Homo sapiens: one gene and its partners. The protein of the gene in region 6 interacts with the protein of the main gene of each other region in a biochemical or structural test. Each region holds a gene or a part of one and is shown on either strand. Other genes may lie near its edges.

Evidence for each region.
Region 1: the proteins of GRK6 (region 6) and PDZRN4 interact in a test that uses a peptide from one of them, tested with the Homo sapiens proteins (one large-scale study listed by IntAct).
Region 2: the proteins of GRK6 (region 6) and APBA3 interact in a test that uses a peptide from one of them, tested with the Homo sapiens proteins (one large-scale study listed by IntAct).
Region 3: the proteins of GRK6 (region 6) and MPDZ interact in a test that uses a peptide from one of them, tested with the Homo sapiens proteins (one large-scale study listed by IntAct).
Region 4: the proteins of GRK6 (region 6) and SIPA1L2 interact in a test that uses a peptide from one of them, tested with the Homo sapiens proteins (one large-scale study listed by IntAct).
Region 5: the proteins of GRK6 (region 6) and MAGI2 interact in a test that uses a peptide from one of them, tested with the Homo sapiens proteins (one large-scale study listed by IntAct).
Region 7: the proteins of GRK6 (region 6) and APBA1 interact in a test that uses a peptide from one of them, tested with the Homo sapiens proteins (one large-scale study listed by IntAct).

The regions. Positions count from the first base shown.
Region 1 is NC_000012.12:41,562,320-41,565,819, forward strand, and holds part of PDZRN4 (PDZ domain-containing RING finger protein 4), read left to right. Parts: intron 1-1,228; coding exon 1,229-1,330; intron 1,331-3,500.
Region 2 is NC_000019.10:3,751,693-3,755,192, forward strand, and holds part of APBA3 (amyloid-beta A4 precursor protein-binding family A member 3), read right to left. Parts: intron 2,649-3,500; coding exon 2,503-2,648; intron 2,414-2,502; coding exon 2,327-2,413; intron 2,235-2,326; coding exon 2,073-2,234; intron 1,299-2,072; coding exon 1,128-1,298; intron 1,029-1,127; coding exon 816-1,028; intron 1-815. UniProt on the Homo sapiens protein: May modulate processing of the amyloid-beta precursor protein (APP) and hence formation of APP-beta. May enhance the activity of HIF1A in macrophages by inhibiting the activity of HIF1AN.
Region 3 is NC_000009.12:13,273,193-13,276,692, forward strand, and holds part of MPDZ (multiple PDZ domain protein), read right to left. Parts: exon of another isoform or gene 3,382-3,500; intron 1-3,381. UniProt on the Homo sapiens protein: Member of the NMDAR signaling complex that may play a role in control of AMPAR potentiation and synaptic plasticity in excitatory synapses. Promotes clustering of HT2RC at the cell surface.
Region 4 is NC_000001.11:232,623,634-232,627,133, forward strand, and holds part of SIPA1L2 (signal-induced proliferation-associated 1-like protein 2), read right to left. Parts: intron 1-3,500.
Region 5 is NC_000007.14:79,447,168-79,450,667, forward strand, and holds part of MAGI2 (membrane-associated guanylate kinase, WW and PDZ domain-containing protein 2), read right to left. Parts: intron 1-3,500. UniProt on the Homo sapiens protein: Seems to act as a scaffold molecule at synaptic junctions by assembling neurotransmitter receptors and cell adhesion proteins. Plays a role in nerve growth factor (NGF)-induced recruitment of RAPGEF2 to late endosomes and neurite outgrowth.
Region 6 is NC_000005.10:177,429,676-177,433,175, forward strand, and holds part of GRK6 (G protein-coupled receptor kinase 6), read left to right. Parts: intron 1-1,196; coding exon 1,197-1,292; intron 1,293-2,035; exon of another isoform or gene 2,036-2,261; coding exon of another isoform or gene 2,262-2,319; coding exon 2,320-2,432; intron 2,433-2,557; coding exon 2,558-2,635; intron 2,636-3,030; coding exon 3,031-3,131; intron 3,132-3,471; coding exon 3,472-3,500.
Region 7 is NC_000009.12:69,515,372-69,518,871, forward strand, and holds part of APBA1 (amyloid-beta A4 precursor protein-binding family A member 1), read right to left. Parts: intron 1,909-3,500; 5' UTR 1,840-1,908; coding exon 640-1,839; intron 1-639. UniProt on the Homo sapiens protein: Putative function in synaptic vesicle exocytosis by binding to Munc18-1, an essential component of the synaptic vesicle exocytotic machinery. May modulate processing of the amyloid-beta precursor protein (APP) and hence formation of APP-beta.

The DNA of each region.
Region 1 (3,500 bases), on a different chromosome or scaffold from region 6:
TAATTATGTCTGTCCTCATGCATCAGCCAGAAACCCAGAGACCTATGAGGAGAAAAACCTCAATAGTCTACTTCATGCTTTTAAGCAGAAGTCCTTAGTGAAAGACATTAGATTATTGAAAAAAGAATGGTCAGTGCTGCTACATTTTCCATCTGCTTCATTTATTCAAGTAATTAATACTATTTTAGACAGAATTACTTGATCTCTTTAATTGGAATTTCTTTCCCATTATTTGATTACATATAATTATAAATCAAAAATCTTGCTGTCTCTATGGAGTTGAGTAATCAATAAAAGAAAATAATTATTAAATATCCAAAGGAAAAAGTTTTATTAATTAAGAGCTAAATATATTTGCACATGAAAATGTAGTTTAAAAAAAGAAACTTTACAAATCTTATTTACTTTTTCTTTAGAACTTAGAAAAAGTAAAAAGATATATTTCTAATGTCACTGGAATCTTTTCCATGAAATCTAAAGTTTAGTCAAGCTTGGTTTCTTTCACTCATCATTATTTTAAAAATTCAATTTTACTCTATGTTAATATTTTTTAAATTTTTAAATTTAAGAGATGAGTCTGAAGATATTTCATTAGTTGTATTACTTTAGGAAATGGATAGATATTAGAAGGGAAATGGAGTATTGATGAGAATGTTATTTTACTTTGATCAGTTAAACACTGAGATTTATCCTGACGATGATGTTTGGGCAACTGGGTCAGACCCACACGCAAATATGAAATGATTAAATAAAAATGCAATCAGCAGTGGCCTGGGAGCATTGCCTGGTGAGAGATAATACTGCAGCTCTCTAATTGGCTCGCGGCAAGCGTGCAGGATGACGGATTTCAGTTGTGGTATTGCCAGTCCTTCTTCCCCCAGCACTATTATCTCAGAGTGACACTTCCATTACTCTGAGCGAAGAAAGATGAACGTCACCTGTCAGGAGCTGGTTAATTGTGTTGCTAGATGTATGTTGCCAGGGCGCAGGTTGGACATTTATGAACATAACTGCTTCCTCTGATGTCCGCCATCCTTCACGGATCGATATGGCTCTTACAGTAAGCGCGTAATTGAGTGAAGGCACTTTGAGCTGAGGGGCTGAAGATGAGCCCATTGTGTGAGCTTCATTGTCCATACATTTACCATAAATGAGCTGATATTTGCCATTTATTGTGTGCAGCATTGTGGAAATGGAAACTAATGTGCCACTCTCATTTGTTTTCTAGATAAATGGGGAAGATGTCCAGAATCGAGAAGAAGCAGTGGCCTTGCTGTCTAACGATGAGTGTAAGAGAATCGTGCTGCTTGTTGCAAGGCCAGAGATTCAGGTCAGAACAGAGATCAAAAGCCTTGAGACTGAACTTTATATTCATTGAATTCACTGAATGTAAATTCGTGAATGAATTATATTCATTATCTGCTATTCTCTATCAAATCATTATCACGGTTATCTCTCCCCATATAACCCACCAGATGGCCTATGTGGGAGTGAATTTTAAAAATAGATATGAAAGCAATTAAGGTATACAAAATACAATAAAGACTGATCTTTCCTAATTTATCAAAAGTATTACACATTAAAGACTTCCTTATATTGCTCCATAGAATGGCAGCTAAATATCCCTTTTAAGGGGGGAAAAGCATACCAAATTGAATTGTGATTCTCTCCTTCAATTTGCCACTTACTTAAATAAATACTCAAATGAAAAATGGCTGTGTGGATCCTTTTAATTCTGTGTGGATCCTTGCTTTAAGTTTCCATCTGAAAATACTTAAATGGCATATGAAGATATCTTGGAAGAAGCTCCACGAGAGAAACACTAGCCTATCTAGTCATCAACTTAAATCTTTTTAAAATAACTTTATCAATTAGAATGTCTTGTATAGCATGATCTGGTTCCATGTATAGTAAATGAATTGTTTCCAAGTTTAGTGTGACCAAAACAATTGTCCAGCCAAAAACTGATAACTTCTAAATGAATTTTTTAGATCTTTATGGAAGAAGATGTCATGAAAGTAGAGTAAAGGTAATGGAAAAAAAGTACTATTGGGGCTTCCTTTTATATCCTTTTTATCTCCCATCACAAGGCAGAAGGGACAAAACATTGTCACCAGTCTATCTATCTGTCAGTAGTTTGAATAAAGTTAGTTATATCGCCATTTGTCTCCTCGGTTATTGATATGATATTTTTCAGACTCAGTAACTACATACTATCTATAAATTACATTGAGTAAGTGTATTTCAGTGTCAGACTGAATCCTGACTTGAATATAGTGGTTATAAAAGATCACCCTTTCTGCATATATTTCGTTTATGCCCTTGCCCATTCTAAATGGTTCTCATAAAGTCTGCCATAGCCTGGGGCAGAGTAAAGTTACACACCTGAGGTCTTAGGAGTGGGGAAAAAAGCCCACAAAACCCCCACACTGCCTATGTGGGAGTGAATTTTTAAATACATATGAAATTATACCAATTATCTGGAAATTTCTCAACCCAGTTATCTCGCTGCTCCCATTTTCTTCAAAAAAGAACATAATAAAGGGGCTAAATGCATATTAGTGAAATTTATGATAAATTGAAGTTGCCATCTCTATTGTAGAGAAGATATTTTTATGTTATAATGTGGTTTCCCTGCCCTTTCCATGTAACTGCTAGAGAACCTCATTAATTTAGAACTAAAGCATTTCCTTAAACTATGCCACATAGTGGCCATAATGGGCTGTAGAAATAATAGAAATTAATAACATAGACCAGATCCTGTTAATCTTTGATGGAATACATATGCTGGGTAGAACCAGTGGAAAATTTGAGTATCTGGCTACACTTCTGACCTTTTTCTCCAAAAGAGTCAATGCTGAAGGATGAATTTTCAAATGAGACTTCCCTTTCCACATTTGATGAAAGATGGTTGTCTGACTCCATAGGATGCTGTCCTGCCTGTCAAAATTATGATCTGCATTAGCCCCTTGATCCTAAAGAAACCTTCATGACACTGGAAGGAAGCTAATTGCCTATAGAAAAAAAAAACAGATTTCCAGAGAAATCAGGAAAAGAAATACATTTTAATACCATACTTTTAAAATGTAATTTAATCAGTACATGCTATAAAGTGGCAAAAAAAAAACTAAAAAAAAAAAATCTTGTCTTTATATCACCCATATTTTTCCATTGAACTCAATTTATCTCATTGTTGTATGTTTTTTTTTTGCGTGTGTATTTTATTCGGGGAGAATGTGGAAGCTTTTGTGTGCTTTTTCTAGCTTTTTTTAAACATTTTTAACGTTTCAAATACTCTCTAGATTCTTGGAAATGATCTACAGAGTTGCTGGGGGCAGTATTGTACATCTGTGCAATATTTTTAAATAACTCATTTTCCTCATTTCCTGTCAACTCTCTTTCATTTTCTGCCCATTTTCTTCCTGAGACCATTAAAGATATTGCTTTTCTGTCCTATTTCCCTCAGGACACTGGGGCAGAGAGGATTCTCATAAGAACTT
Region 2 (3,500 bases), on a different chromosome or scaffold from region 6:
TGATAGAGAACAGACTCGGGCCCGGTGGGCATGGGGTCGAAGCTGTCTGACCCGAGCCATATCGCTTCCTTATGGCCAAAAGCCAAGCCGACAGCCGGGCTCTCCAGGCAGGCTGCAAACATCTGTAAGAGGCTGCACGGACTGTGGCCTCATTCCTCTGACGGGGGCAGGTCCCTCCCTATCTCTGGGCCTCAGTTTCCCCATCTGAGCAACAAAGGTTGAGACTCAAAAACATGGCCAGGTGCAGTGGCTCACACCTGTAATCCCAGCACTGTGGGAGGCCGAGGCAGGTGGATCACTTGAGGCCAGGAGCTCAAGACCAGCCTGGCCAACCAACATAGTGAGACTCCATCTCTACAAAAAATAAAACAATAAACTGGGCGTGGTGGTGCACACCTGTGGTCCCAGCTACTCGGGAGGCTGAGGAAGGAGATTTGCTTGAGCCCAGAAGGTCAAGGCTGCAATGAGCCAGGTGCACCGCTGCACTCCAGCCTGGGCAAGAGTGAGACCTTGTCTCAAACAAACAAACCCCCCCAGAAATTAGCTGTTTCTTGTTAGAGAGAGAGAGTGGCCCAGCCCTGGAGCTGGGCCACCCGCATTTCCATCCTGGCTCTGGTACTAGGGAGGTGCCCTGGACAAGTGGCCTCCCTTCTCCAGGCCTCAGTTTCCCCAAGGGCACACCAGTGGGCAGGACTTAAAAGTTCGACTTTGTCCCTCCTGGCTGGGCTGGAGAGACCTGGCCAGGGAGGAGACCTCTCTGGGACTCAGCTCCCCTTCCTGGGAGTGTGGGGGCCCTGCCACACCAGGAAACTCACGCGGACAGCGGCCTGGCACGCAGCCAGGGGCAGCCCCACCAGGCTGGTCCCGTTGATGGCGGTCAGGCGGTCCCCGATGCTGAGGGCCCCCGAGCGCTCAGCAGGCCCCCCGTGCAGCAGGTTGGCGATGACGGCTGTGGGCAGCAGGGAGCCCCAGCCCGACTCCACCAGGGCCACGCCCAGGCCCTCCCCTCGCCGCTTCTCGAGGTGCACCTGGGACACACAGGGGGCGCGGAGGCTGCTCAGCAGGGCCCGGTGCAGGTGCACGGGTGTGGGGGGCACCAGGTGGGGGCTGCCCAGCACCTCACTCACCTCCCGGCAGTTGTCACTGTTGGAGAAGTGGTCCAGGTCCCCATTATGGAGGTGGCAGGCGCCTGGGCTCGGGTGCACGCCCACCTGGCTGGGGTCAATACCGCTTTCCCGTAGGAACTGGCTGTAGGCGGCGGCGAAGGCCTGGCCAATGGCCTGGGCGATGAGCTGGGCCTGCGGGGAGGAGTGGCGCGTCCCTGGGGTGTCCCACCCACCTCCTCCAGGTCCCCAAAGTCCCCAGGGTCCTCAGAGCTGAGCCCTCCTGTCCCCACCTGGGGTGAGAGTCCCAGGACACAGCCTTCTGCCCTGGGGCTTTGGGGGAGGTGGAGAGACAGCCGCATCTTGGGGAATCTACGGGGAGAAGGAAGGGGAGGGGCAGCCCTGGGCTGGGGGGACGATGAGGGAGGCAGCTCCCTGCGCATGGGCTGTGGGAAAAGCTATCAAAGACCCAGCCAGGGGGCCTGGGGCCTCATGGGTGGCAGGGACAGCCCAGGAGCGGGCAAGGTTTCGGGGAGTCGGCCGAGAGTCTTGGAGTCTTATAGGAGGCTGGACGCGGTGGCTCACGCCTGTAATTGCAGCACTTTGGGAGGCTGAGGTGGGTGGATCGCTTGAGCCCAGGAGTTTGAGACCGTGTTCACCTGGGCAACAGAGCGAGACCGTGTCTCTATAAAAAATACAAAAATTAGCCAGGCATGGTGATACCCCGGTGGTCCCAGCTACTAGAGAGGCTGAAGTGGGAGGATCGCTTGAGCCTGGAAGGTTGAGGCTGCAGTGAACTATGATTGCGCCACTGCACTCCAGCCTGGGTGACAGAAGGAGACCTTGTCCCAAAAAAAGAATTTAAAAATAAGCTTATGGGAGGGAGGTTAAATGCACGGCCCACTGAGGGAGGCGACAGTTGCAGTGAGGAGGGCCTCAGGAGGGTGGCCCCGCGCCCTGGCTGCTCACGTCCTCCGCGTAGAATACGTGGCAGAGCATCTTGTAGAGGCGGCGGCCGTGGTCCTGGGGTGCCGGCCTCCGTGCCAGCCGCCGCCGCGCCATCAGCACCAGCACGCAGCCGATGTCGGCTGTGTAGGAGATGGTATGCAGGGCGTGGTCCATCATGGCCTCCTGGGGCGGGAGAGGCAGCCTGGGTGGGTTGGGGGGCCGTGCCAGGCTCGATCACCCCACCCGCATCCCTGGGGCGGGTCCCTGCCCCGTACCTGGGAGTCCGCTGTCAAGACCTTGATCCTCTTGGTGGAGACGAACAGGTCCACCTCCGTCATGGGCTGGGTCTCCCCATCGGGGGCCTGTGGGTGGCGGCGTGGGAGGTGGAGGCCCCCACAGACCCAGCCTGCAGCCCACCCGCCTGCCCGCCCGGCCCCGGCCGCCCCCTCACCTTGACGCGGTCCATGGCCTCCCGGGCCTGGGCCATGCGCGTGCTGGTGGGCGGGTTCCGTTCCGACACCAGCTGGGTGGACCCCAGGTACCTGGCCCCAAATATGACACCGTCCAGGAGGTCTTCATGGTCACAGGGACCAGGCACTGAGGGCGACAGCGAAGAGGGTCGGCCCCCAGGGGCCCACTCCCACAGGCTCTGCCCCAGGGCTACGCTCTCCGAGATGGCCGGGAGACACAGTGTTCTAGCTGGTGGCTTAGCACTCTCCAGCCAGGAAGCACAGCCCACTGTTCTAGAACCATCCAAGCAGCCTGGCCCTCACAGGTCTAGAACCTTCTGTCCATCCCTCAAGGACTCGCAGGTGGGAAACCAGTGAGTCCAGGCCATGGCTGGATTCAAAGCCAGATCTAGCACCCACAGATACCTTCACCCCGTGTCCCCAGAATTCCATGATCAGGCCGGAACCAGACAGTCCCACTCCTGCTTTTTTGAGACACGGTCTCGCTCTGTCGCCCAGGCTGGAGCTCGGTGGTGTGATCTCAGCTCACTGCAACCTCCGCTTCCTGGGTTCAAACGATTCTCCTGCCTCAGTCTCATGAGTAGCTGGGATTACAGGCGCCCACCACCACGCCTGGCTAGTTTTTGTATTTTTAGTAGAGACGGGGTTTCGCCACGTTGGCCAGGCTGGTCTCAAACTCCCGACCTCAAGTGATCCACCCGCCTTGGCCTCCTAAAGTACTGGGATGACAGGCGTGAGCCACGACGCTCCACCCCCCACTCCAATTTCGAAACCTCCACAACATTCTAGAACCACAGTGGACCCCTGCTTCTTGGTTCTGGAATTCCCTCCATCAATCTAGAACTGGCCAGCTCTGCCCACTGTTCTAGAACCGTCTGCAGTCAGCCCAGGATAGCAGGCAGCTCTGTTCCCGGGTTGTAGAACCACTCAGAACAGAGACAGACCCTGCTGCCTGTCTAAAATTCCCATACTCTCCAGA
Region 3 (3,500 bases), on a different chromosome or scaffold from region 6:
AGGGACCCAGTGTTTGATATTTTGTTATAGCACCCGAAATGAACTAAAACAGGGGCCTAGCAAGGTATAAGAGAAACTGGACATATCTTAAATATATCGGAAAGGAGTTTTTAAATTGTAGAATAATCTTTAATCTTTATGACTCTATCATCATGGTTTTGTTACGTTAGTGATATCTTATGAACACAGAAGGATAGCTTCTCATGACCATTTTCTATGACAGTTCCCTGAAGCAAGGTATCCTATGGAGCCACCTGAGTACACAATATAAAGTTACTGTGAAATTAACAATATAGTGAATTGGTTAACAAAGGAGTAATTTGGTGCTGAAATTATTCAAATAATTGCCATTCTGTATATGTTACAATTCAGATTATCAAACACACCAAGAGTTGGAGAGGGGATGATCTGCATCATTCTAGATCAGCTCTGGCCAATGGAAATATCATGTGAGCCACATATGTAATTTTGTCTGTAGCCACAGTAAAGAAAAAAGCAGAAGTAGGTGAAATTAATTTTAATAATATATTTTATTTAACCCACTTTCTTCAAATTATTATTTCAACATATAATCAGTATAAACATTGACTATTAACACTTAATTTTAAGCAGAAATCAAAATTTTTTAAAATACGTTCTCCACTGGTATCCTACATGCCACGTGGTAGTGAACTGTATCATATCTCTTCAAAAGACCTGAGACATCAGTTCAAACAAATGCTATTAGTATCAACTCAAATTATATAACATTTAATAATCTCAGATCAGATGATGCTCATTTAGAAAGGCAGCAATTGGTGAAATCTATTGATCAACAGCTGCTCTATCCATTTGTTATATCAAAATAACTTAAATATCTTCATTTTCAAAATATGTGTCTTGGGGATTTTCTTGTGGGAGTGGTATCTGGGTGATCTAATTACAGGCAAGCTTTCCGTCTTCTTTTCACTTGTATCTTCCATACCTTTTAAAATGTGCTATTTACTAAAATAAATAATTACCTTATGTATTTTATTATCAAAATAATTTTAAAACATAAGCAACAACATTAAGTTTTTTCTTAATTTTTTTTTTTGGTAGTTGATGTTACTGGGTTTTTTTTCTTCTTTTTTAATAAATGTTTCATTTTTCACTTTCCCCTCATGCACTTATTTATAGCACCTTGGATCTGGAGGCAGAGTGGTTTACAAGAAAATAACAATGAATGTTGCTTTTGCAGACACAAATAAAACTAAAAAGTGGATAAAGATAAGAATTCCCTAAACAAAACAAATTTAACCACCACAGGCAGACAGGCCAGAAGAAAAAAAGTAAGAGTTTGTCTCCTTTTATTTATTTATTTATTTTTAACTTAGCTGGCCAGATTGGGAAGAATGGCTCTAATGGTTTCATTAACTCAACAAATAAAATTGCAACACCTAAAAAACAAAAAAAAAAAAAAGTTTTTATTTTATGTAACATAAATTCCCTTTTATTAATCATATTTTCCCAAAAGGGGGAAACATTTCTGAAGGAAAAAAGATTATGCCATACATTACCCCACAAAACACGTATAAGACAGACAGTTTTTAGATCAATGGAATTTAAAGAATAAATTCTGTTGTTTTAATCAGACTCAAAAACCACTGAGACATTTACAACACAGTGTTTCAGCTTTGCCAAATTTAGCGCTTTACTATTTTTAAGAACCATTAAAAGAAATATTTTAAGAAAACGAATGCTTTTATAAAACACTTAAAAAAAAAATTAATGCTCTGTCCACAAAAAGGCCACAGAGGCACAATTTCCCAATGAACATCCAGAGAAAGAAAATAAGTGGCCTCAGGCCAAAGATAAAATACCTTTGTCCTCAAATAGCAGCTTCCCTTTCTTGCCAAACATCAAATTACCCCAGTAATGCTCAGACTATGCACTAGCCTCCAATACGAGCTCACTGCCTCAGAGTCTCACTAGTTTACACACTAAGTCTCTTTGAGAACCTTGTTATGAGCTAAACTGTGTCTCCTAAAAATTCACAGGAAATCCTAATCCCTGTACCTCACAATATAACTGTATTTGGAGATAAAGGTTAAATGAGGTCACTAGGGGTGGGCTCTAACACAATATGACTGGTTCCCTTATAAAAAATTAGGCTATAGACATACACAGAGGGAGGGCATGTGAAGAAACAGGGAGAACTCAGCCATCTACAAGCCAAAGAGCGAGGCTTGGTAGAAACCAATCCCACCAACACTTTGATTTTAGACTTCCAGCCTCCAGAACTGTGAGGAAATAAATTCCTGTGGTTTCAGCCACCCACTCTGTGTTATTTTGTCAAGGCAGCCCTATCAAACTAATACAGATTTTGGTACCAGGAAATGGGGTGCTGCTGTAACAAACACCAAAAATGTGGAAGTGGCTTTGGAACTGGGTAATAGGTAATGGCTACAAACGTTTTAGGGTGCATGTTAGAAAAAGCCCAGATTGCACTGAAGAGGTTAACTCTCAGAAGGAAATGTGACTTGGGTTATTGGAAAGTGGAAACTTCAAGAGATAAAAGTCAGCCTATACTTCATTGCTCTCCATTAATTGCTCTTCCCTATCCAACCTTTTCCCCTGGGCACAAATCCTCTATTCCACTCCAGAAATATACAAATTGAATATGCTCTCCAGTACCCACTGCCCACTCACATCCCAGCCTCTTCTATACATGTCCATTTTCAAGGGAAAACCACTGACTTAAGCTCTACTTCATATCAAAAAAACTTTCATTTCCACCCTCTCATCTCAAGACCAAAGCCTTTCTGTGTCTTATTTACTAACCTCAATGATAAGAGCAACTAATCCCTATACTTCACTACTTTCCTAGAATCCCTGTAACATTTTTAACATGTAAAACCTTTCTGTTATTTCTCCCATTAGATTCCTCCAACTAAGACCCTACACTTCTGGAGCAGAATCATGTTTATTCTGTACTCTCCCCAATGCCTAACCCAATACAACATTCTTCCTAATCCATCTATTACTACCTACTACATGAATACCTCGGATCTTCTCTGGAAACGTATCACAGGAAGGCAATGGATTCCTCACCACTGGTTTCCTTTATCGAGAAGTAGTTATTTACCTCCTTAGTCTTATTCTCCCACATGGAATCCCACTAAAATTATTTAATCACAGTATATCAATTTTACCATGCTAAATATCATTTCCGAACTGTACTTATATAAATGCTCTCCTATGCATGACACTAATTTACAAGAAAAAATGAAACCTTTATTGTTATAAATATGGGGTTGATAATGTACGTAACAATATCAAATGAAATCCTACTTTAGGCCAAATATCTATTTTCAAAAGTACATACAACTGTTTTGGACATATATCATCACTCATACGCACCATCAAGCAGTCCTAAATTCACCAGGAAGTTGTCTGCTTCTTCTCTTTAAAGTGTAGGATCTTTCTCTGGCAGATGTGCTATTTGCTCTACCATATTTGGGGACATTCCAGTCCAACTT
Region 4 (3,500 bases), on a different chromosome or scaffold from region 6:
AAACAGCTGAGTTCAATTAGAAACTTTCTAAGGAGAATAGCATCGCCATTACATTAACCTCCTACCCCTCAATAAATGAAACCCCAAACCAAGACCCACAAGCAATTCTGGAAGAAAACAGGCCAAAGTCAGAAATGTCTTCGGGAAAAAGAATAAATACACAGTAAATATAAGGCCCATCAAGAGTGGAGTTTGTCTTCCGCTTGCCTCACAAGACCCTACAGGCTCCCTAGAAATTCCATTTCTCAACTGCTATAAACTCTAACCAGTGATAGTACAACAGTGGTCTCTACACAGGGGCCACACATTTCAAAGATACAAATGCCCTTGAGATGCAGAGAAAATACTTCTACATCTATTTATTTTTAATATTAATCTTCTTAAAATGTACATTTGTTTTATGTCCATAATATCTTAGCACAGTAAAGTATATGTTTATACATACAGATATATTATACATATACACACACACAAACGTGCATGCAGATATGTATACATGTATACGCATACATACATGAACACTTAGACAATTGTGTATAGATGGGATGCACGTTGAAAAAAGTTTGAGAACCTTGAGAACCTGCTAAAAAGAAACCACTGTTTCTTGCATTAGGCCATTTAAACACCTGAAACAGGTAGCATTTGCCCTGTACAAAGAATCAAAACTATAATTCCTAAAATTACTTATTAGAAACTTCAATACGGAGAGGACAGTATCCCAAAGCTATTCCTGAACAATGTGAATACCCACTGTTCAACAAGGAACCAAATGTGTTATCAAAACCACCTCCAGAAGACAGTGAAAGTAGTTATGCTGACTTCACAGGACACTATGTCTTAAGCATTAACCAGAACTTTCTTTTAAAACTCCACACAATAGTTCATCTCAGCAGACATAATCTTTTATTCACCCAGGAGTTCTTACTTTCCACAATAACAATTTTTAACACTGGCTCTTTACCTAGATATTTTTACTTAAGAGTTTGAATAAACTACCAGATAGCTTACTTCGGACTGTTCTGATTTCTTGAGGAACTCAACTAAATGGGGATATTTCTCAGAAGATTAAGCAAATATGTAGAAGTGAAAAATATGGAGTAATCTAATGGGCAGAGTTCAAGACACCCCTTTTGGCTAAATGTTTATTAGTAAAATAGGAAGAGAAGTATATCAACCAATTAAAACAAAACCGGAAGAGACTGTGGTGTTCTTCCCCACTATCTGAAAGCAATTCAACACAAGAGAATACCAAACCAAAAAATAAGCTGAAGAAAGTCCAACAATATTCTGATTTTTCCTAGAAGCACTGCAGTTCCTAAGGCCTCCGGAGGTCACAGATCACAGTGTGACCCTAGTGTCTCAATCCAGTCAGTCATTTAACACATTTTCTTAATCATATGCAGAAGAGAGTGCTCGTTACTAGGGACACACTGAAAATGAACTCATTATTACTCAGCATAACTTGGTCAGTAGAACCAGCAAAGGAGGTTTGACACACTCTTTCAGGATATCCATGTGGAAAGGTGGAGCTATATGGGCTAGTTATAAGATATGAAGAGCATTAGTAGTTAACTATAACCGAGAGTGTGACTCCTTGTAAGCCTCGAGGGAAGCTTCCAGAGACACACTTCGTGTTGTTCAGCCAGTTTAACAATTTCATCACCGGCTTAAGTAAAGATATAAAAGAGTCTGATCTAATAATGTACAGACAGCATTTCTTTGGGAGGACAGGTAAAGGTGCCAAATAATATAATCAAATTCTAAAAAGCATGATGGAAAGAATCAGCTAAAATAAAGCAAAACCACAGCGCAATAAATGTTAGGTTTTGCAATGACATCAGCGCAAGATGGAAAGACGAGGTTCAATGGCAGCATGTGATTAACGGCTCGGCAGGTTTTAGCGAAAAGGAAACTCGTTGAGTCTGGCCACCAGAAAAGTAAATGCAAACTTGGACTACATCAGTGCAAGCAACATGCAACCTATGACAAGACACTCCTGCTGTACTCTACACAGGTCATGTTCACGGGTCACGTTACACCAAGAGCCCAACTCTGACAGAGACTGAAGGATTTGTTCTGTAGGCCACCAAGGCAGTAGAATTTGAATAAACAAGCAGAATCAGATTTCAATTCTATAGGCCAAAAAACTTTCTAGTACTCAAAACCATTAAAAGGTGGAAATCACCACCCGTTACTTGCAATGTTCAGGTATTACCGGAAGACCACTTACAGAGATTATATAAAAGGATCCAAATATCAAAGAAGGGTTAGTTGAGCTACTCAGTGATTTCTAAACCCCGGTCCTTAGTGAATTTTTCATTGACCCATGCAAAAGAAAAAAGTGTCTGTGTGGGGATAGATATAAATCCACGAGTGGGGTAATTTTAACACAGCTCCTCTCTGGATAGGAAGAACTCTCCTTTAAGTCTGACAGCATACATATTCTTCCCCCTTTCCCCACCTTTTCTCTTTTTTGGTACATCAAAAGGATTTTGACGAAATGCATTGACAATAGGTAGTAACTGCTGTTGTCAATTTTAAACACACTTATGTAGCAACATTAAATGCTGACATATCTGACAATCCCTAATATTTGCTTTTTTTTTTTTTTTTCATTTTACAGGTAGACGAAAACAAAAGGTATAGGAACAACATGACGAGACAATCTTTAAGGTCCTTTCTGGCCCAAAGGAGCATGACAACTAGACTCGACTTGCTGCATATTTTCTTCCTTCCTACCACCCAACTTGGCTATCTAGTACTGGGGGAGAAGAACGAACCAAGGAATTGGGTTGCACTAAATATGAAATCTCTCAAGAAGCAGAACCTCAACAGTGAGTCAAGATCTGGCTCCCTTCTACAGCTGCTGTTCTTTGGAACCAAAGTTTATGAATCCAGTTCAGAAAGGATCAAAATAATCTATGTCTAAAGTTGGGAAGCTTTTAAATTCCTACCACATTGTTACCACACTTTTAAAAGGAGTCACAGCTACATGCAACTGGAACACAAAAAGCAATTTCTGAATCATTGATTTCAAGGTAAACCAAGTAGCTATGACCCTCATGCAAAGCATTCACATACAAACTTACTATAGGCCAAGGCAAAGAAATGACATAATCATGAAAAATATAAACATCCCAGTCAGACAGGCATTTTCATTACTCTAATGCGTTCGTCTTAAACCTTAAAGAAACCCCAAATTTTGGTGCTGAAAGGGATCATGAAAATAGTTTCATCCAAATTCATTTGTGACAGGTGGTAGAGGCAGGAAGCTCAAGGTTCCTGTCTGTGCCTAAAGCTTTTTCTACTCTCACTCTGCAAATGAATTAGGCACATTAACAGAAGTAGAAAACCTAGAACATGGTTCACTATTCTCTAGGACTGTACTTTGTATTTCATTGAAGTTCAAAACAGAAAGAAAAAAAAAAGCAGCTTTTCAATTAACAATACCCTAGTCTAAATTTTCTTCAAATTCAGTGTGTCTTTAAAAGGATTTGTAA
Region 5 (3,500 bases), on a different chromosome or scaffold from region 6:
GTAATAATAAAAGCAATTTTTATTAATTATCTATGATGATATGGACATTGTACTATGTATGTCCCTATGCAAGTCTTTAACAATGTAAATTCAGCAATTATTATATTACTAAGTTTTCTATATAAGATAATTTACTTTTATTAAAGGAAATATAACAAATACTTACTAGAGACAGAAGAGAGCTGAGAATAGAATGGAGTAAGTAATAATAAAGTCACTAAACTAAGGCAGTTGTATGTTTGTTGTCATAATATATAGCCAGATTATAGCTAGGAGAGATTTTTAGAAATTAATACTGAACCCTGGAGCTTCAAGGTAGATGTTTCCATTGAACTGTAAAATAGGATTAATTCAACGAAAATGCTAAAATTATGGGGAAGCTAGCAGTGGAAGTATTGTTGGTTGCTTCACCTTGTAACAGTATTAATACACAGACTTACTTATATTGCATTTCTTTCATACAAAGTATGAAAATACTATAAAATAGTATTTTAATAGTACTATAGTACGTTAATAGTATTTAAATAGTATTTAAATTTAATGGTATTTTAACAGTACCATAAAATACTATAAAATAGTATAGTATAAAATACTATAAAATGCAATACAAATAGCCTTTTAACTTATTTACATTGCAATACTCACAAATGCAAAGTATTATTTTTGCTGAATTTGATGCATTTCCTCTTTATTATACATTGTTGACTGTGAACACTTAAGAGTTAACTTTTATTATTGTTATTCTTTATGAGGTGCTTAATTTCTAGCTGAGAAGTAAAAGTTCAACAGCATGATACTTACTCTTAACTACAATGATGTATTAATATAAGAAGTATAAACTCCTAAACTTAATAAATTCTAATAGGATTTCTATGTTGTCAAGTTTAGAGTAAATAATTCAATATATTCAGCAATTCTTTGGGAGTAAAGATATGCGGTATGAAGAAAACAAATTACTATGTAAAAATAAACTATGTCTAAAGTATAAAATAAATATAAAATAGCAGATGTTTACACATAAAGGGAGGATCAGTGGAAGTTATTTTTAAAAAGTGAAAATATTTTCCATTGTATTTATTGATATTATTCTTCAAATAAATTCTTTTCAAATAAAATATTTATTTCATTCTGCAAAAAAACCTTAAAATACAACTTGCAAAATACTCTATATTAATGTCAATCATTTCATATTTTTCAGTTAATTTGAATTGAGTAAAATATCTTGAAAATTAAAAACACCTCATAATGTCACTAGCTCAAAATGACCAATATGTTTGCAATAGCATTTACTAAAATCTACATAATGCTTATCACCTGCCAGACACTACACACTTTAAATACATAACTTATCTAATATTCTTAAGGTGCCATTACTACCCCAGGTTAGTTATCTTGTACATATAGCTAGCACTAACTGACATACTCAGGAATTAAAACTAGGTGGTCTACTTAGGAGACTGTACCTTTAACCATTGCTCTACCCCACCTTCTGAGGAAAATGATTCTGCCAGGGTCTGTATGTATTTGAAAGTCATTAATTAAACTATAATCAATCAGAGATGTCAAATGTGAATATGCTTTTCTCATTATGAAAGTGAATTTGTGAGTTACAAGCAATGAAAAGGAAAGTGAGCATAATAAACATGCCAAAAGATTAAACAGTGTAAATGTTAAGAATAGGGACAGTACAGATAAAAAGCAAATAATCATATTTAACATTCGAGGTCATACCATTTAAATTATCTACATGTACCAGAAAACTACAGTGGTATCACTTATAAATTATGCCCCAAGAGAACCGTCTCATTAACCTTGTTCAAAACATTAATGGTACTTTATTTCTAAAATAATAAACTGATCAAAATGTTTAAACAATGTTTTGTTTATTAAACAACACTATTCATATACCTCACATTTCTACAGAAAAAAAGTCAATCTTTATTTTCAGAAAATTTGACATAATTTGTTTTTACCTTTTCAGATACAAAGGAGTATAGAGATCTGACTCTATTATTCTAAGCCTGAAGTCAGTCAAGAAGAAAGTATGACTCTTAATAAATGTGGATCTACTTTCCTTTGAAGGTATCTTTGAAAGGAGCAGTAGGAGGGAGAGCAATGTAGATCTTCTCTAAAACTGAATTTCAAAGGATTTATTTGGCCCATCTTCCACATGGGAAGAATTAGAATTTTTTTTTTTTTTTGCCTTTTATTTCCCATTGTGAGACCCTAAATGGGAAAATAAGTCCAGGTTATGTAGGTCTCTATGTGGTATTAGATGCAATAGCAGCCATAGTGCAAGGAATGTAGGCCACAAAGGCCTGTGTAACTGGCTGCTGTGAACTTTAGTGGCAAACCTTAAAAAAGGGAAAAGAAAAAGGAAAGAAGACCTTTAGCACTTCCATATAGATCTCAACATCACTCAAAAAACTTTCTTCAACTGGGTCTGATGCATTAACGAGATCATAGAATTACTGCTAATTTAGAATTACATACTTTGGTGAGGAAAGTTTATTATTACAAATAAAATGCCATAGTTTATAAAAAAGAATTGGATGTGACAATAAGCCATATTTTAATATGTGGTTTATTATTGTGTGGATTAAAAGCAGAAAGCTTAAATTAAAAAGATAATTCCTTGAATTTCATTAAACAGTTTTAAAAATTGTTTTGCAGGTATTTAAACAGTGTAGAAACACTGTGAGATATATACATATATATATATATATATATAATGTCTTAAAATCCCAACATTTTAAAAGGAGCTCACCTCCTTTTAAAATTATGACAGATGAAAATTATGATAACTGTAATGTAAAATTAGGCAAACAAGTAAATAAAATTAAGTAAATAATGCAATTTTACCTGGTGCACTTATTAACAATATTCTTATTATTCAAATCTTACCTTTTCTTTATAAAATCTTCCTTAAACTATGATAATTCTTGTAGTTTCTGTATAATACCCAATGTCTGAATGAATATTCAAAAATCAGTCTCATTAATGTTTTAAAAACGCAACTGCTAAACAAACCATGTTTAAGTTTTTCAGCTATGCTAGCTTTTGCATCTCTTGAAACATAACTACTGGGCCAAGAGTTTCTAAATGATTTTCCAGTAAATGACATCTGTATTGAAACCTAAGACACACAGGCACTATAGTAAAGGTTCTGAAAAATTTCATTTTTTATAATCATAAATAAAATTAATCTATGATTTGACGAGGAAAAGAATTATTAGAATAGCAACATGAATCATATTTAAAAGAATATACAAGAGAATTAATTATTCCACAAAAGGTAAAAGAAATATTTTGTTTTGTTTTGTTTTTGGTCAGCAGTGGTTCAGGAGATGAACCAACTGTGGGCTCTCTGGCTATCATTATACAAATTTATCATCAATGAACCAGTGAAGCACGAAACTGAGGGTTAATATAGAATGAAAAGAGACTTTCCCCTCAATATATCACTTTAGAAGCATATATTCTGAGTTCTAAAAGCAATA
Region 6 (3,500 bases):
ACCACCTGCCCTCACCCAGGCCAGATGGATACAGGACTAGAAAGCCAGAGGGGAAACTGAGGCCCAGCATGAGAAAGTGGTTGTCTAAGGTTGCCATGGCGTTGTTGGAGTTGGGGTTCACCTCTTGACTCAGCCCTACTTGATGTGGACAGTGTCTCCCATTCACTACGTAACACACATGGAGAAGCTGAGGTTCACAGATAGCGAGTGATGGGCCACAGTGTGAATCAGAGATTCAGACCCAGCTCTGGGAGGCTCAGGCCCCTTCCACCCTCCTCAACCTGGTGGCCCACAGGCCACACACATTTGGCTAGCTCCCTGACACATTTTATTTGGCTGCAGTGAGTTTTTTTTTTTTTTTAAACAAAATGGGGGCCAATATTTTATGTTAGAGTCTGCAATTCCGGCTGCTTTTGAAAAAATCAGAAGAGCTGGCCACATTGAGCCAGAAACCCTCCTAGCAGCAATCAAGCAATCAGCTGGCGTTCTCCTGCAGCTGGCCCTGTCAGAGAGGCCTTCGCTGTTCCTGGTCATCTCACATCTGGCCCACGTTTCCCACACCTGTTGGGCTCTGCAGGCAATCGAACTGCTGCTGTGACCTCAGCTGCTGCAGATGGGGTGTCTGCGAGGTCAAGCAAGACAGGCAGGGGACCGGGGAAGCCCCAGTGTGCAGGGGACGGGGAGTCCTGGGTGCCAGCCCCCTTGCCCCTGCCTCATTTGAGCGTCTGATATCTCTGATGTGGGGCCTGGTGATAGAGGCCTGGGAGCCTCCTTGTCCCCATGCTGCCCTGTGCGTCTCTCAGGCCTGCCCCACTGGCCTAGAATCTCTCCCTCCCGGGCCTTCTGCACTTCTCAGCACTGTGACGTCCTTCTCCCCTTTCTTCACCGGGGGAACTCCTACCTGGCGGGAAGCAACTGGGGCTGGACCCATTGTTGGAGCTACTTGGAACACTGTCCTCCCGCAGCGACCTCACTGCCTCTCTTGGCTCTCCCAGTGCAGGAGCCTGAAGCAGGAGAAGCACGTGTGTCCTGGAACGCAGCAAGGGCGTGCTGGAGCGTGCAGAGGGAAGGCCTGAGGTGCTGTTCTGCCTCAGCTCTGCCTTGGCTGGGCCCTAGAGGCCGTGGACCGCACTGAGGACCCAGAGGCAGTTCTGAGGCAGTGGGACTCGAGACCCAGTGTCCTATTGCTCCCACAGGTGGCGGTGGAAATCGCAAAGGCAAAAGCAAGAAATGGCGGCAGATGCTCCAGTTCCCTCACATCAGCCAGTGCGAAGAGCTGCGGCTCAGCCTCGGTGAGGCCTGGGCAGAGACTGGGGGTGCTGAGGCGAGGGGCCCTGCTGGGGCCGGGGGAGCCTCCCCTGAGACCTTGCCCCGGAGCAGAGGGGCAGACTTGGGGGCTCCAGTGAGCAGGAGGATGAGGACTGCACCATTCAGCCCAGTTTCAGTTCCTGGGCTTGGGACGGGTGGAGAGCAGACAGCAAACAGGGTCACACCGAGGGTGGTTGAAGCGGGTGTCGGGAATAGGGCAGGGGCAGATTGGGGCAGTTGATTCCACTTTGAAAAGGAGAGCCAGCTAGGGTGAGCAGGGCCCACAGGACAGAGGGAGCAGCAGCTGGGCCAGCCCACAGACTGACTGCCTTGGGACCCCCAGGCTGGGGCGTAGCCTCCCAGGCCCAGCCCTGAGGGGTGCCCAGCAAATCCTTGACCAGAAGCCCTCAGCCTGGGCAGTGTGACAGGGTTACTCCTGGGAGGGGACAGAAGGGCCCAGGACCCCAGTTCCTGCCAATCTTGGCCAAGGCCCCAGGTCTGAGCAGCACCCAAGGTTGCTGAGGCCCCCGGTGGCCTGCACGTGCGCAGAGCACACCCGGGCTGCTTCCACCTCCTGGGAAGGAGGCCCAGCTGAGAGCCTGCCGGAAGCCACAGCTTCCTCTCGCACTTTCGCCAGGCAGGCAGCAGGTGTGGGCCTGGCCCCGGCTGGGCTGGGCCGGAACCTCACGGACCGCACCCAACCCCAGTACCGTGACATACGCAAGTCGTGTAAATCAGGAGACAATGCAGGGAGGTGGATGGAGGCCTGGGCTCTGGAGCCAGACTCCCGGCTGTGTGACACTGAGCTAGTCAGTTAGCCTCTCTGGGCCTCACAGCCCCAAAACAGCTGTGCCCACCTGAGGGTTGTGGTGAGGGTTCTGAAGAAGATTGTGGCTACCACACTGCAGAGCTGGAAGCTGTTGTGGGGGCCCAGGGCCTGGTGGTGTGGGCACATGCCCCACCCATGTGCTCTCGGGCTGTGGACCCAGCAGCTTCCATCACTGCCAACAGAGCGTGACTATCACAGCCTGTGCGAGCGGCAGCCCATTGGGCGCCTGCTGTTCCGAGAGTTCTGTGCCACGAGGCCGGAGCTGAGCCGCTGCGTCGCCTTCCTGGATGGGGTGGTGAGTGCAGCCCAGCCCTGCCCAGCCCCGCGGGTGGCCGAGGTCCTGGCCCCATGTGCCCCTCCTCCCCACACCTGCTGCTTGCCCTGCCCAGACCTCCAGCTTCTTTGCTTTCCACCCTGCAGGCCGAGTATGAAGTGACCCCGGATGACAAGCGGAAGGCATGTGGGCGGCAGCTAACGCAGAATTTTCTGAGCCACACGGTGAGTGAGCAGCGATGGAGAGATGATGGGAGCCACCAGAGCCCCGTGTCAGGCACAGGAGTGACCACAGTGTCAGGCTTCTGAGGGTGGTCTCTTCATACAGACACATGTAACACACAGCCTGGACAGAGAGTGCCCTGGAGCTGCTCCAGGCAGCACGGCGGGCATGCAGCCCAGGGTATGGGCTGGGCTTGGGCCAGGCGGCCTCCCAGTGGCTCTGCTGCGCTCTGCCTCATGGGTGGGCAGCAGGAAGGACTTCAGCAACCAGGCTGGCTGGCACACCCTGGCCTGCAGCCTCTCATGGCACCAGCCCGAGTTGCCTGACCCCTCTCCCCTGGAAGTGGGCAGCCATCCAAGGGAGCCCCTGCACTGACCTGTCTGGGGCTTGTTCCCAGGGTCCTGACCTCATCCCTGAGGTCCCCCGGCAGCTGGTGACGAACTGCACCCAGCGGCTGGAGCAGGGTCCCTGCAAAGACCTTTTCCAGGAACTCACCCGGTAAGCCTGTCCCTGCCCACAAGCCTGGAATTATGCCCAGCGGAGGGGGCTTCTGGGGGCCAGGAAGACTGTGAACAGCTCGGTGGCTGGTGAGGGAGCTCAGCTGCCCAGCCCTGGCCTTGCCCCTGCTGTGTGACCTGAGCAGGCTGCCTCCCCTCTCAGTAGCACCCACAGCTTCAGCACAGGCTGTGTGTCTCCCCGCTCAGGGGTTAGCAGGAGGACTGGCCGACGACGATACCTGTGGGCTAAGCCTGTACAGAACGGGAGGCCTGGCCCAGCAAGCCAAGAGCCTGAGGTGTCAGGGGCTGGCGGGTGAGCTGGGCCTGCCTTTCCTCAACAGGCTGACCCACGAGTACCTGAGCGTGGCCC
Region 7 (3,500 bases), on a different chromosome or scaffold from region 6:
AACATTCTCTGATCCACAGCACATTCAACTCCCACCCTTTTCATGCCACTTTCACATACCCTATTCTTTCTACTTGGCTACTCCTCCCTATAAAACAACTTCCCCCTTGTACCTAACTCTAGAGACCCTTAAAGATCTTAAGGTCAGAGGTTCTCATATGGCAACAGTCCTTCCTCCCTAAAACGAAACAGTATCTTTCTCCCCTTTGCAATAATCCTTTCCAGTGAAGTCTCTCCTTCCTCAAGCATGGCTTGTTTTTTATTTGGCATTAGAAATACAAATTCTCGGGCCCCACTCCATACTTTCTGAATCAGAAACTGGGGGGGGGGGGGGCGGGGGGTGGAGGGCGATGTACCCAATAATGCATTTCTCACAAGGTCTCCAGGCACAGTGTGGGAAGCACTGATTTGAGGCCATCCTGCTAAGAATCTGATGAGTGCATTCAACACTTTAATTCTCTCCCGCTGGCGTTTGACAGTTTAGGTGCAAGCTGTTTCTGAGGCTTACGGTGGAAAAGTTCTTAGCGTCCCCACAGACTACTTCCCGTAAAGTCACTACCCAAGGGCACACAAGGCCATGGGGCGCCATCTTCCCTCCCACCGCGTGGGGCCGAGGAAGCCCAAACCCGCACCTACTTACATCTCCGTCCATCGGCCTCTGGTCGTCACAGTCCCTGGTGGGGCTAATGTCCTGGCGCATGACCCAGATGGGCTCTTTGGGCTCGTCGGGGGTGTAAGGCGAACGGATGGTCCTGGTTTTCACCTCCTCGATGGCCTCCTTGATGTCCTTGATGGCCAGCGAGATGGCATCGCGCTTCTCCTTGCTGTACCGCTGCCCCGCCTCGCCGCCGCCCGCGGGGCCCACCGCCCGCTGCTGCCCCGCCGGCGCCTGCAGCCCGGGGCTGTCGGGGCGACCCCCGGCCGGGGTAGGGGGACGCTCCAGGTCCTGCTCGGCCTCAGGCATGTCCTCGGCTGCCTTGTCGAGGCTCTGCGAGCTCATGCTCTGCTTCACCTCGGCCACTATCTGGTCGATGTCCTCCTCCTGCTCGTAGCTGTCCATGCGCGGGTAGGGCGCGAACTCGGCCTCCTTCTCGGGGCTGTCGGACTCGCCGTCGGAGCGCTCGTCGTAATGGTGCAGCCGCGCGCCCAGGGCCTCCTGGCGGTACGCGGCCGCCTCGTCGCGCTCCTGCTCGTAGAGCCGCAGGCCGTCGCGTGCGTCCAGCTCGGGCGCGTCCCCTATCTCCTCGTACACGTGCTCCTGGAGGCCGCCGTAGTCGGCATAGGGCTCGGAGTAGGGCTCGTCCTCACCGCGGTGGAAGAGCCGGTGCGTGTAGACGTAGCCTGAGTAGGCCGCATTCATGGCTTCCTCGTGCTCCAGCGAGTGGAAGTGCAGGTGGTTGGGCAGCGCGCGGCGGTGCGTGGCCTCGGCGTGCTCGGCCTCTGCCTGCTCCGTGTACTCCTCGGCCTCGGGCCGGTACTGCACAGCATAGGCGCTCTCGTCCTCGGGGTCCTGCGCGCGCTCCGCATCGTAGCCGTCGCGGGCCGCGGCGATCACGTCGCCCTCGGCGGTGTCCGTGTGGTTGTGGAAGCCGCTCTCCGTGCTGGCTGAGCGCGCCAGGCATTCCCCGCGCTCCTCTTCCTCCTGGCCGAGCTGGGCGCGGAGGTCCTCGAGGGCTCGCCCGCGCTGGTGGCGGCCCACATAGTGCTGCTGCTGCGGCGGCTGCTGCTGTTCCTCTTCCACCTCGGGGTGCTCCAGGTCGGCCTCCACCGACTCGTTCACCTCCCCACCTGCCGCCTCGTCGGTCACCTCCACCTCCGCAGACCCCTCCAAGTGGTTCATGGTGGGAGTCGGAACGGCTAGGAGAGAAGCTGGGCCCGGCTCACTGCGCTCTCATTTTGCTCCACTGGGCTGGAAAAACAAGAAGGGGAGAGGCTGTCACGTGGTGCAAACAGTCGTTATGAGCTGAGTATTCAGATAACCATAAAAACAACTGCTATTGATTCCTTTTAGTTCTGGGTCAATTAAAAAAAGACTGCAAATTTAAGTTCAATCTGACAGCACATACATAGCACGCATCATAATTTGTAATTACATATCTACTTGTTTAATTGCTTATTGCCTTTCTCCGTTCCCACCCCTCACACTGAGCGCCTCAGGAACGTTTTGTTCTCCACCACGCATACGATTCAGGTCCCATTTCTGATGCATCTGAATAAAGAGTACTACTAAATTGAATGGGCCAACTGACACATTTTCCATCTGCTAACAGATAAATCTCTCCAAATTAAACTAGGATCCTACAACTTTAGAAATCACTCTTTACATCAATTTCAAAGAAACATAATCTTGAACACCTTTTGAAGCCATTCTGAGAGAGGCTATCAGCCAGCAGTGGGGTCCCGCCCCGGTTCTGTCATTACTGACTTTGTGACCTCAGGCAAGTGGCTTAATTTTCTGGACCTCCACGGTGTGACTGGACTCATTTCCTACATGCAGGATGTTAACAGCTATTATATAGGGTAAAAAAGACTCGGTGGTCAAGTAAGTTTGGAAAATGCTGAGTTACAGTTGACTTTTCATTGTTAATATCCAGAAGGAGGAAGATGCAGGACACAGGGTTTCCCTAACTTGTTTGACCAGGAGACACTTTTTCCTAGAGGCCAATGTTACATAGCAGCTGGTTTCTAATAGTTAGGCTTCCCTATTGCGCACTCAGCATCCAGGATACAACCAACCACGGAAGACAATATTAGGGGAAAATATCCAACACAATACAACAATAAAAAATAATGCAAGTAAAAATACAGTATAACAACAATTTATATAGCATTTATATTGTATTAGGTATTATGAGAAATCTAGAGATGATTTACAGTATATGGGAGGATGTGCATAGATCATATGCAAATACTATACCATTTTATAATGGATTTTTATATCCACTGGGGTCCTGAAACCAACCCCCATGGATACCAAGGGAGGACTATATTCACTTTCCCCATGTAACCTGAATCTAAAATTCTAAGATTTTATGAGTTGCCATTATAGCTAGAACTGGATAACAGGTGTAATTTTTTAAAAATATGGGTAGGTCTCTTTCTATTTTCAGAGAAACTTGTAGCTCGAGAGAAAGATTTGGTTTCAGTCTCTCTCAATTCTTCTTATCACAAAATAGCTTTATGGTATAATCTGTGCAGTATATAGAAATAGACACAAAGAATGTAAACAACCACAACAAAACAGGCAGGACCCCTATGATTTTGAGATCCCTATGGTAAATAGGCTCAACAGTATGTGTAAACTTGCTATTATGTTCTTTTGGAGAGCCTTTCTTACAAATGGACACAATGGATGGGAAGTGAACTCTTAAATATGATAACAGACAACCCCAGGAGGACCAGGGACATCTGATGGACTCTCTAGTAGTGAGATGCATTATATTCTACTCAACTCCCCATCACAACCACAGCAATTTCCTTCAAGCATTGATGACCATCCCA